Homo sapiens: one gene and its partners. The protein of the gene in region 1 interacts with the protein of each later gene in a pairwise test. Each region holds a gene or a part of one and is shown on either strand. Other genes may lie near its edges.

What was found.
Region 2: the proteins of BASP1 (region 1) and AGTR1 interact in a two-hybrid assay, tested with the Homo sapiens proteins (one large-scale study listed by BioGRID and IntAct).
Region 3: the proteins of BASP1 (region 1) and SERPINB5 interact in a two-hybrid assay, tested with the Homo sapiens proteins (one large-scale study listed by BioGRID).

Annotation. Positions count from the first base shown.
Region 1 is NC_000005.10:17,269,585-17,273,241, forward strand, and holds part of BASP1 (brain acid soluble protein 1), read left to right. Parts: intron 1-3,657.
Region 2 is NC_000003.12:148,700,795-148,704,451, forward strand, and holds part of AGTR1 (type-1 angiotensin II receptor), read left to right. Parts: intron 1-3,657. UniProt on the Homo sapiens protein: Receptor for angiotensin II, a vasoconstricting peptide, which acts as a key regulator of blood pressure and sodium retention by the kidney.
Region 3 is NC_000018.10:63,497,349-63,501,005, forward strand, and holds part of SERPINB5 (serpin B5), read left to right. Parts: exon of another isoform or gene 1-155; intron 156-1,771; coding exon 1,772-1,939; intron 1,940-3,657. UniProt on the Homo sapiens protein: Tumor suppressor. It blocks the growth, invasion, and metastatic properties of mammary tumors.

The DNA of each region.
Region 1 (3,657 bases):
TAGCTGTTTCTAGCCAGGTGGGATTAATTGGATGGAGGCTTGGTTTTATAAGGTGGAAGGGAATAAAACTAGTCACAAGATAGTTGTGGGGGATTTTAAAGATGTAAGTTAGTATCTCTATTAAGCTATTTGACATATGATAAACAAACAGTATTCTTCTGCAGGAAGTAGCAAAACAAAATGACATTTGACAATGTTAGCTTCTCTCATTAACATGGTGTGTTTAGCTTATTAGCCAAGATAAGCTGTAGACCAGGTTTTTACCCTTTACACGTGAAATTTGAGGCATTAAATGAGTAAAAGAATTGGGATTCCTTTTCCATCTTGGTGATCAAAACACTTTTCTCTTGTTTCCTTGGACCAAGTGATGAAGAGGTGGTGAGGGGACAGCAAAAAATGCAATTACATTTCTTCTCTTTATTTTTATTTTTTGAGACAAGAGTTTTGCTCTTGTTGCCCAGGGTGGAGTGCAATTGTGCGATCTCGGCTCACCGCAACCTCCACTTCCCAGGTTCAAGCGATTCTCCTGCCTCAGCCTCCTGAGTAGCTGGGATTACAGGCATGCACCACCACATCTGGCTAATTTTGTATTTTTAGTAGAGACGGGGTTTCTCCATGTTGGTCAGGCTGGTCTTCAACTCTTGACCTCAGATGATCTGCCCGCCTCGGCCTCCCAAAGTGCTAGGATTACAGGTGTGAGCCACCACACACAGCCCCCTCTTCTCTTTCTCTGATCACTCCAATACTCGTTCTAATTGGGAGGAATGGATTTAACTAATCTTTGGTTTTTATCTCTGTGTAGAAACTGATTTCTTGGCAGAATGGACTGTTAATATATTTAAAAAGACTGAAAACCTCTTAGAATCTTAAGTAGTAAAATATTCAGAGCGAAGAAGTAGAGATTTTACCTTTACAATATGGTGACAACAGATAACTGTAAAAACTTCTTTTTCAAATAGAACCAGCAGGAGCATGCATGGAACACATATACCAAACATCTTTCTGATAACATTAAACATTTTTAAAAGATGTTAAATGTTCTTTTCATTGTGGTGCTTCAGATTCCTGATTCTAGAACTTGTGTGTGTGGAACCTGTGTGCTAACTATTCTGTTGGAATTTACCAGCAAAGAATTATCTAAGAATTTTCAAACTAAATGATGGGGGAAGGAACTAACATTTTTGCAGTCCCTGGAAATGTAAAATGTTGTACTCACATGGCCTCACATTAAATTCCCATTAAATTGACATTTAAAAAAATTTTTTTATTTTAAAGGAAACGGAAGGACGATGAGATTAAATAACTTGCCCAAGGATTCTGGGTGGGTGTGCTGTGGAGGTGGGATTTTTATACTCTGCCATGACCCAATGTGCAAAGTCTCCTTGAAATTCAATTCTTGTCCAATATTTACCAGATTAAACTCAGTGAAATTCCTCTCTCTACTACTGTTTATGGTTATTTTCTATGCCAATATTAATCGGTAAGCCTGTCATTTTCGCCCTTGTGGCATCGAGTTTTCTTTGAAGGACAGCTTTTTTGTTTGCTTTTTGTTTTTTGTTTTGCTTTGTTTTGTTTTGAGGCAGGGTCTCACTCTGCCCAGGCCATAGTGCAGTGGCTGATCTCGGCTCACTGCAACCTCTGCCTCCCAGGCTCAAGCCTCCCCAGTAGCTGGGATGATAGGTGTGCACCACCACGCCTGGCTAATTTTTGTAATTTTTGTAGAGACGGGGTTTTGCCATGTTGGCCAGGTTGATCTTGAACTCCTGACCTCAAGTGATCCACCCACCTCGGCCTCCCAAAGTGCTGGGATTACAGGTGTGAGCCACCACACCCGGTCTTTAAAGGACAGCTCCAGAATTAGCTTTTTTCTGAGATGTCATAACAGAGGTCAGTTTTAGTGTTTGGTTAATACATAAACACATAGAACTGAGGTCAGTGCCTTCAGCATTGGTCTGAATTTTGTTGCTGTGCTACAAAATTCTAGTGAATTTCCTAGTTGTGGAGAAATGCAAAGTCAGTCTCGGCCTTTTCAGTAGAGCTTTGGTTTAGTGACTTTTTTAGTTGAAGTGACTTTTCAGCATGGATTGTCTATTGCTGTATTTTTTTAACTGCTTTATTTTAATCTTAGAAGTTCCAACTTCTAACTTTCTATACCAAATGATGTCTTTCAAAATTAGAAGTAACAGAAATGAATGAAATCGGCTGGGCATGGTGGCTCACGCCTGTAATCCCAGCATTTCGGGAGGCCGAAGTGGGCAGATCACCTGAGGTCAGGAGTTCAAGACCAGCCTGGCCAACATGGTGAAACCTCATCTGTGCTAAAAATACTAAAATTAGCTGGGCATGGTGGCAGGCTCCTGTAATCTCAGCTACTCGGGAGGCTGGGCAGGAGAATTGCTTGAACCTGGGAGGCGGAGGTTGCAGTGAGCCGAGATTGTGCTGCTGCTGCACTCCAGCCTAGGTGACAGACTGAGACTGCATTTCAAGAAAAAAAAAAAAAAAAAGAAAGAAAAGAAAAAGAATGAAATCATTAAACTGTATGCTCATTGCTTTCTCTTGGTAAAAAGCTTCTCTGGCAAATAGGAAGATGAAATGTTGAGAGGCAGAGGATACTCAAAATACTGAATTTCTTCCTTATTCCCTCAACACCTGAGTTCTGAACTACCCCAGGTGGCACCATCCTTGTAACCCAGGCGCATAACATTCCTGGGCTGAGAGCTTTGCCCCATTGCCGGCTTCTCAGTGGAGTTCCTTCTATCCCCTCTGTGGTGCCTTCCTGCCTTACTGAATTTTGCTGGACTTGGCCTTTGCTCATAGTACAGCTCCACGAACTCAGCTAGTAGGATTTCCTTATGGGTAAAAGGAGAATGTGAATGGCATACTACCCCATGGTGCTGTTGAGATTACATATTTTATGTAATATATTTATGAGTAGGATTGTGCTTGATACCTAGGAAACAGTTAATAGATGTTGTAGGCAAGGTCTTCACGCATATGGTCTTGGGAAATAATGAGACAATCCTGCTTTTCGAGGGTTCAGGTGGGTCCTATGAGCGTCCCTCTGATACCTCAATATAACCAGTAGAGGTAAATTAGCAAAATGCCAGGGGCGTTTGTTAACTTTGTTTGAAAAACAAACTGGATTGAGACATATTTTCTTACTTATAACTTGATTACGTGTGTTCATTTTCGACCCAGAAACAAATCGCAGCTGGGCATAAAACAAAGAATAGAATGTGGCCTTAACTATGTGTCAGAAAAGCCAGTTTTAGTAACTCAGATTTTAGGTTTGTAACCCAACATGACTTTAAACCTCTGGGGATTGCTGTATAGAATTTCATGCTGTGGGTGTCAGAAAGCAGCACCCCATGTTATACTTACTGGACCCCCTATGTTTGCACTTTATCTTAGTGTCTGTAATTTCTAAGTTGGTGTATGGGTTTCTATTACTGGATTGAGAGAAGATCCTAAAGGCAGACCTGTTAGGTTTCCTGTTTCTTATTTAGCTCAACCTAAGGGACCCAATGTATTTTGAAATATCAGAGCTGAAATTATATTTGGTATAGGCCATTCGTGCATACTGACTAGTTAAGAATTCAATGGAAGAGTTATAAACTATAATTTAAAATATTGATCCGGTTTATTTCTTTATATTTT
Region 2 (3,657 bases), on another chromosome or scaffold:
TCAGCTTTCCAACACGTGATGATTGGAAAATGCTATTAGTTTCCTTCAAAATTCTCCTAATGTTTCTTTTTCAAAATTGCCTAAGATCATTGGATTATGTGGTTTGTGTTTCTTTTCACTGTAGCTGCTTGTTAAAGCAGTATACTCAATCTCTGATAAGCAACAGTAAATTTGATCGATTTGTATCCTAAATTTAGCTATCACTTTACATTTTGTTTTATTCATAATATGAACTTTAGCTTCTAAAAATCAACTTTTTAATAGCTTAATATATAAAGCCATCTTAAATCAAGGAATATCTATAGGGACTTAAGGTAATATTCAACTAAATTGGCAAGTGACTACCATTATCCTATTAAAGCTCTAAAATGCAATATTTCAATCACAGAAAAAAAATCTTATAATTTAAAGAACTATAAATTGCCAGATGTTTCCCTAGTTATTACGTTAGTGACAAATTAGACAACTGGAAATAGAAAACAGAGTATATGTTTGGAACAGTCATAAAAGGACTAGTGACTATTGCTGCTAGCTGTGGTTGTATTAACATTAAAATATTTGCTATGGGATTTTTCTTCTTATCAAAGCAGATGCTCAGATGAGGAAAAACTTTCTTGCATATGAAAATCAAAATTGTCTTCCAAAATATTTAAGTAACAAAAAATTCATTATGTAGTATAAATGCTGTATGATTACATTATTCTTATAGTTAATTTAGAAGGGTTTGAATTTGTTTTTGTTTTGTTTGTGTTTGTTTCTTCGATAGGTGCATTCTCTAACTGTCTTAAGTAGAAACAAATGTCTAGAATCTCTCAGTGATTATCAGTCTCCTTCCTATTACCAAGAATGTTTTTATTGTGTTGTTAATCTCACATGTAATTTTTTTAACATTTAAAAGTTTGGAAAATGGGTAAAAAATGAGTGTGCCTTGTTTCCTATTATTACAATGTGCCTTCCTATTTCAAGTCCCAATTCTAGATTTCCTTAAAACTTAAAATCATAGAATTAATAATCTTTCAGTTTAAGTCAACTTTTGTGTGATTTCTTGTCCACTTATACACACATAGATGCCTTCATCTTCACCAAATAATGTAGAAATTTTATTTAGTTCAATGGATTTAAGTACTCTGTATGCTTAAGTACAAAATAAGAATATTGAGAAATACACATATGATTGTGTACCTTTTTTTTTTTTTTTTTTGAGACAGAGTCTTGCTCTGTTGCCCAGGCTGGCGTGCAGTGGCATGATCTCGGCTCACTGCAACCTCTGCCTCCCAGGTTCAAATGATTTTCCTGCCTCAGCCTCCTTAGTAGCTGGGATTACAGGTGCATGCCGCCACGCCCAGCTAATTTTTGTATTTTTAGTAGAGAAGAGGTTCGCCATGTTGGCCAGGCTGGTCTCAAACTTCTGACCTCAAGTGATCTCCCTGCCTCGGCCTCCCAAAGTGCTGGGATTACAGACATGAGCCACCTCACCTGGCCTGATTTTGTACTTTTAAAGAGAATTTGTTGTTGCTAATTTGCTAAGTTTATTTAGATATTTTCTGATTCTATATTAGTCAAAGCTCCTCTTATCTACTTTGGAAAATGAAGAATTATGTCTATAAAATATATCAACAACAGCTGCAGGTACTTACAGAGGAAATACTGTGGATCTGAGTGATATTAGGCCCTGAGGATACAAGCCAAAGTATAAAAATGGTCTTTGCCGTAGAGAGATAGTAGTCAAGCTAAGCACATATTTTGGCATGGGTCTCTAATAGCCTAATGCTAGTAGGGTGGGAAGCCATTTAAAAATGGCCCCTCCTTCTGTCCTGCCTTTCAGACCAGATGGTGTGTCTAAAGTGGTCACACTGTTTGGTTCTGGCCACTTCTGTAATAACCACTGCTCCTTTCCCCTCCTCGTGAGATTATAACTCCTTTGACAGTATGGATGGCACCTAACGCATCCTTGTTTTCTTTTACTAAATGTTCCACGGAGTCACTTGCTTGCCTGTTTGTTGCTTATTTGTTTGTTTTTGGCTAAAACTACAGAAAATGTTAAATACATTTTCAGACCTTTATATTTTAAAAAAGAAATGTTAAGAAATAAATAATTTTTCTAATCTCATTTAGATACACTGTCCTATTACACACAATGACAAATTTGATGCTTTTGTCTTGCTAATTGAAGAGCTAAGCATGAATACAGTTTTTCAGTCTACAGCAGCAATGACAAGGGTAAAGTGGAGAAAAGAGTAAGGAAAGAAAAAATTAAAAAGAATAAAAGGTTGAAATATCAAATCGGTGGTTCTTAAGATGACAGAGGCAGGTGAGACAAGAATACTGGAATCACCCAGGGGGCATATGAAATCTGTACATTTCATCCACACCTTCTTTTCTCCCCCTGTCCTCATTCCCCCTGTTGAGACACATTGTATTACAAATTAGGAGGAAACCATCTAAAATTATCTCACGTATCCCAGTTCCCATATTAGCATCATGAGTATCACCTGAGAGTTTGTTGGAACTGCAGAATCTCAGACCCTGTCCAGACCCATTGATTGCATAAGAATCTGCATTTTAGCAAAATCCTCAGGTGATTCAAATGCACATTAAGGGAAAAGAAACACAGTGTACCGTACCTGTGGCTTGTTTAGAATAATTATGAAGAGGTGTTTTCTTGGCTCTTAACTAACGTTTTTAATAAAGCTAATATTTATTGAGTACATAAATGTGCCAAACACAACGTTCAGTCTTTCTTTAAATTTTTTTTATTTAATCCTCACAACAACCCTGTGAGATAGTTTCTGTTTTATCCTTATTTTATAGATTGGGATACCAAGTAATAATGAGATAAGTAGTTTACCCAAAAGCTGTAACTGATACAGTCGAGATGTAAACATAAGAATTCTAATTTCATTGCCTGTTCTCTTAGCTGTTACCTACAGTGTCTGCTCTATACTGGGCTACCTACTTTTTAAGGCCAACTAATTATTTGAAAATTTATTTAAAGTTTTAATTTGAGATCAAAATCTGTTTCCCTCATAAATTTTTTTTAAAAAAAGCAAACAAGATCTATTCCATTTTGATCTAATGTTTTCCTGTCACCTTACCTTTAAGTGCAATAATGGGAAATTCTAGAAATTCCTTCTTTAACTGTTTGAAAAAATACCAAAACTATGACAGCCTGTCCAAATCCACTAAAATATATTTTTATATGCATGCTTTTTGTATATCAATTATACTTCAATAAAGCTTTTTAAAAAAATAGTAGATGACATACTTTTAAAAATTAACTTTGGAGCCCAGGTATGGTGGCTCAGACCTGTAATCCCAGCACTTTGGGAGGATCACTTGAGGCCAGGAGTTTGAGACCAGCTGAGGCAACAAACTGAGACCCCCATCTCTACAAAAAATAAAAAATTGCCAGAGCATGGTGGCGCACACCATGTAGTAGTTGGGACCTGTAGTCCCAACTACTCAGGAGACTGAGTTGGGAGGATTGCTTGAGTCTGGGAGGTGAAGGCTGCAGTGAGCCATGATCACACCACTGCACTCCAGCCTGAGCAACAGAGAAAGACCCTGTCTCGAATAATAATAATAATAATAACAACTTTTGATATCTCTATTTTTTCCCATAAAAATCCAAAATTTTCTGTTTACTTTTTGGTGCTC
Region 3 (3,657 bases), on another chromosome or scaffold:
CATGGGGCTCTTCTGTTTGATGGTCGCCTTCCTTATCCTCTTCGCCATGTGAAGCTCTGTGGGGGTCACCTGCCTGTCCCTGCTGCTGCGGCTGCACACCATTCTTGGTGCTGGGCTGTGCTAAGCTTTACCATTGAACACAACGTTTCTGAAAAAAAAAAAAAAAGAGCCAAGCATACAGTGGAGCTCAAAGGGACTTAGAGATAATTTTAAAAAGACTTAGAGATAATTTTAAAGAACATTTTCCTTTTTAAAAATTATGCAATACTCCAAGCATTCAGAAAATGATAGAGAATAATAAAACGAACACCCATATACCGATCAATCATCTTTTTGAACTTAATATTTTGCCTTAATTATTTCAGATATTTTAAAGAAAAAATATAACAACAGTTGCATTGCTTTGTATGTATCCCTTCACTGCTCACTCCACTGTCCTGTTCCTCTTTCTTCCTCCCCAGTGGTAACCATTATTCTGAATTTACAATTTCTTCATTCTACTGACAAGAATACTGAGGCCTGGAGAGATTGAGTGATTTGCTCAAGGCCACAGAATCTGTTTATGTCACATTTGGGACTAAAAACCAAGGTTCTTATCTTCAATTTAGACTTTGTTAATTAGCTCAGATCTGAGTAGGTGGCAGTACAGTGGGGAGTGGGCAATTCAAACCAAAGACAAACAGAGAGGTCACAACAAATATTGTTTTGTTCTGCTATGTGCTAAGTTTGTTGTTGTTATTGTTCTGTTTTGTTTTGAGATGGAGTCTCGCTCTGTTGCCCAGGCTGGAGTGAGTGCAGTGGTATGATCTTGGCTCACACCAACTTCTGGCTCCCAGGCTCAAGCAATTCTCCTCCCTCAGTTTCCCAAGAAGCTGAGATTACAGGCGTGTGCCACCATGCCTGGCTGACTTTTGTATTTTTTAGTAGAGACAAGGTTTCACCATGTTGGCCAGGCTGGTCTTGAACTCCTGACCTCAAGTGGTCTCCCAAGGTGCAGGATTACAGGCATGAGGCACCGTGCCCAGCCAGTTTTTGAAATTAGGCATTTTATTAGGAAAAGCCGTATAAATGGTTATGTGGGTTTGCAGTAGAATTTACTTTCAAGTCAGCTCCACCAGGAATAGTTTAAAGATCTCATAGGCATCTGTAAAGAATAACAAACGTTGCCTATATTTACAGCCATACAGTCTTATTTTTAAGGTTTGATCTATGCAAATACAGTATTATATATACTTCATGTAATGTGTAACATGTAGATTATAAAGTATATGAATAACTTTTCAAAGGAACACAAACTCTTCACAGGACAGTCTCTGGTTTCAGTGCAATACAGTTTGGATCTGAGTGGATGATGAATTATAAGCCATAATAATCTGACACTGTGTCAAGAGCAAATTTGTGTATATATATATATGTACATATATATTTATGTGTTTGCCTATATATGTGTATATATGTGCATGTGTGTATATATGTATGGGGTATATATATATAGTATGTATATATAAGTGTGTATATATAGGTGTGTGTATATGTATATGTATGTATATGTATGTATGCATATATATGTATATGTGTATATATAGGTGTATGTATATATGTATGTGTATCTGTATATATATAGGTGTAGGTATATATGTATGTGTGTCTGTATATATACATGTGGGTATATATGTGTGTGTGTGTGCGCGCGTGTGTGTATATATATATATATATATATTTATGCATGTGTAAATTGAAAAGTAAGCAGTCCAAATTTTCCCTTTTACAGACAGACACCAAACCAGTGCAGATGATGAACATGGAGGCCACGTTCTGTATGGGAAACATTGACAGTATCAATTGTAAGATCATAGAGCTTCCTTTTCAAAATAAGCATCTCAGCATGTTCATCCTACTACCCAAGGATGTGGAGGATGAGTCCACAGGCTTGGAGAAGGTAAGGAGAAGGCAGGTGCTCTCCACAAAGGCACCCCCTGCCTTGGCAAAGAGTTGTGCCAACAGGTCTGTGTGGGCCGTGAGAGCTGGGCCGGTAGCCCTCCCTTATTGCCACTGGCTCAGTCACCTCCAAGGACCCATGGTTCTTTCTGGGGCCTTTCCTCCTTAATATTAACAACAGCCAAAATTTATTTGGCACTTACAGTGTTCTAGGGACTGTGCTAAGTTGCCTACGTGCATTATCTCATTTAATTCTTACAGCAGGCTGATGAGTTAGAGACTGTTACCACACTCTTGTTTACCAGTGAGGGAGCTGAGGCACAGAGGGGTGGGTAACTGGTTACATAATTAGTCAAGGGTGTGTGCAGGATCAGGATTTGGGCCCAGGTAGTTGGAGCCAGGTTCTTAACTGAAGGCTAGAGTGTCTCCCTCACCTCCTAGGCAGTTAAGGCACTACGTTGCTACGCACTGCCAGGTCCACTATCATGTGACCTGATGTCAAGCATCCTCTCTCTTGCTCTTTCTTTTTTTTTAAAATTAGTAGATGTTATTTTTAGAGTAGATCTATGCCTACAGAAAAATAAGCAGAAAGTACAAGGAGTTCCCATATACTCCCCTTCCCGTCCCAGGCCTACAGTTTCACCTGTTATTAGCATCTTGCATTAGTTTGGTATGTTTGTTACAATTGATGAGCCAATACTGACATATTACTATTATTATTATTATTATTATTATTATTGTTTTAGAGACAGGGTCTTGCTCCATTGCCCAGGCTGGAGTGCAGTGGCATGATGGTAGCTCACTCTAACCTCAAACTCCTGGGCAGGCTGGAGTGCAGTGGCATGATGGTAGCTCACTCTAACCTCAAACTCCTGGGCTCAAGTGATCCTCCTGCCTCAGCCTCCCAAGTAGCTGGGACTAAAGGCACACAGCACTATGCCTGGCTTTTTTTTTTTTTGTAAAGGTGGGATCTCACTGTGTTGTCCAGGCTGGTCTTGAAATCCTGGCCTCAAGCAATCCTCAGCCTCAGCCTCCTGAAGTGCTAGGATTATAGGCATGAGCCACCACACCTGGCCTTCACAATTTACGTTACGGTTCACTCTTTGTGTTGTACATTTATGAGATTTTAATACGTACACATATATGCTTCAAAATTTTGAATTATGCAGATACTATTTTATAGTACACATTATATATAAGTATTTTATTTTATATGATAAGGGTTATTATATTATTTTATTTATATAGATTTTTAAGGCACAAAGTTTAAATAAGAGTAGCAGTTTTCTCTGCAGGTGAATGGAGTTTTAGCTTCCTCTCTGCTCCCTCACCTCTGCTTAGCTGGCTGAGGCCTGTTCTCCCTTTAGTCCCTCCCTGGCTTCCATTCTAGCTCCACCCCGCCTGGCCTCAACCCTTGGCCAGGAAGGAAGAAGGGGCTCTTTGAAGGCCTGGATCACTTGCTATATATCCACATGGGCCTCAGTGATTTGCTGACTTTCCAGGGGACCATCCAGTCTCCAGCTTGCTCCTTTGGTTGCCATTATGTTTTAGCCACCACTTTATTAACTGAATTATAATTCCTGTCCTTCTTCTTCTTTGGTGCATTACTCTCTCTGTTTTTTTTCTTTCCATTTTATGCTTTGATCTTTCAGCCATTATCCAGCTGTCTTGGATTTTACCTTTCGTTCTTAAAACGCCCTCCAATAAACATCAATTATT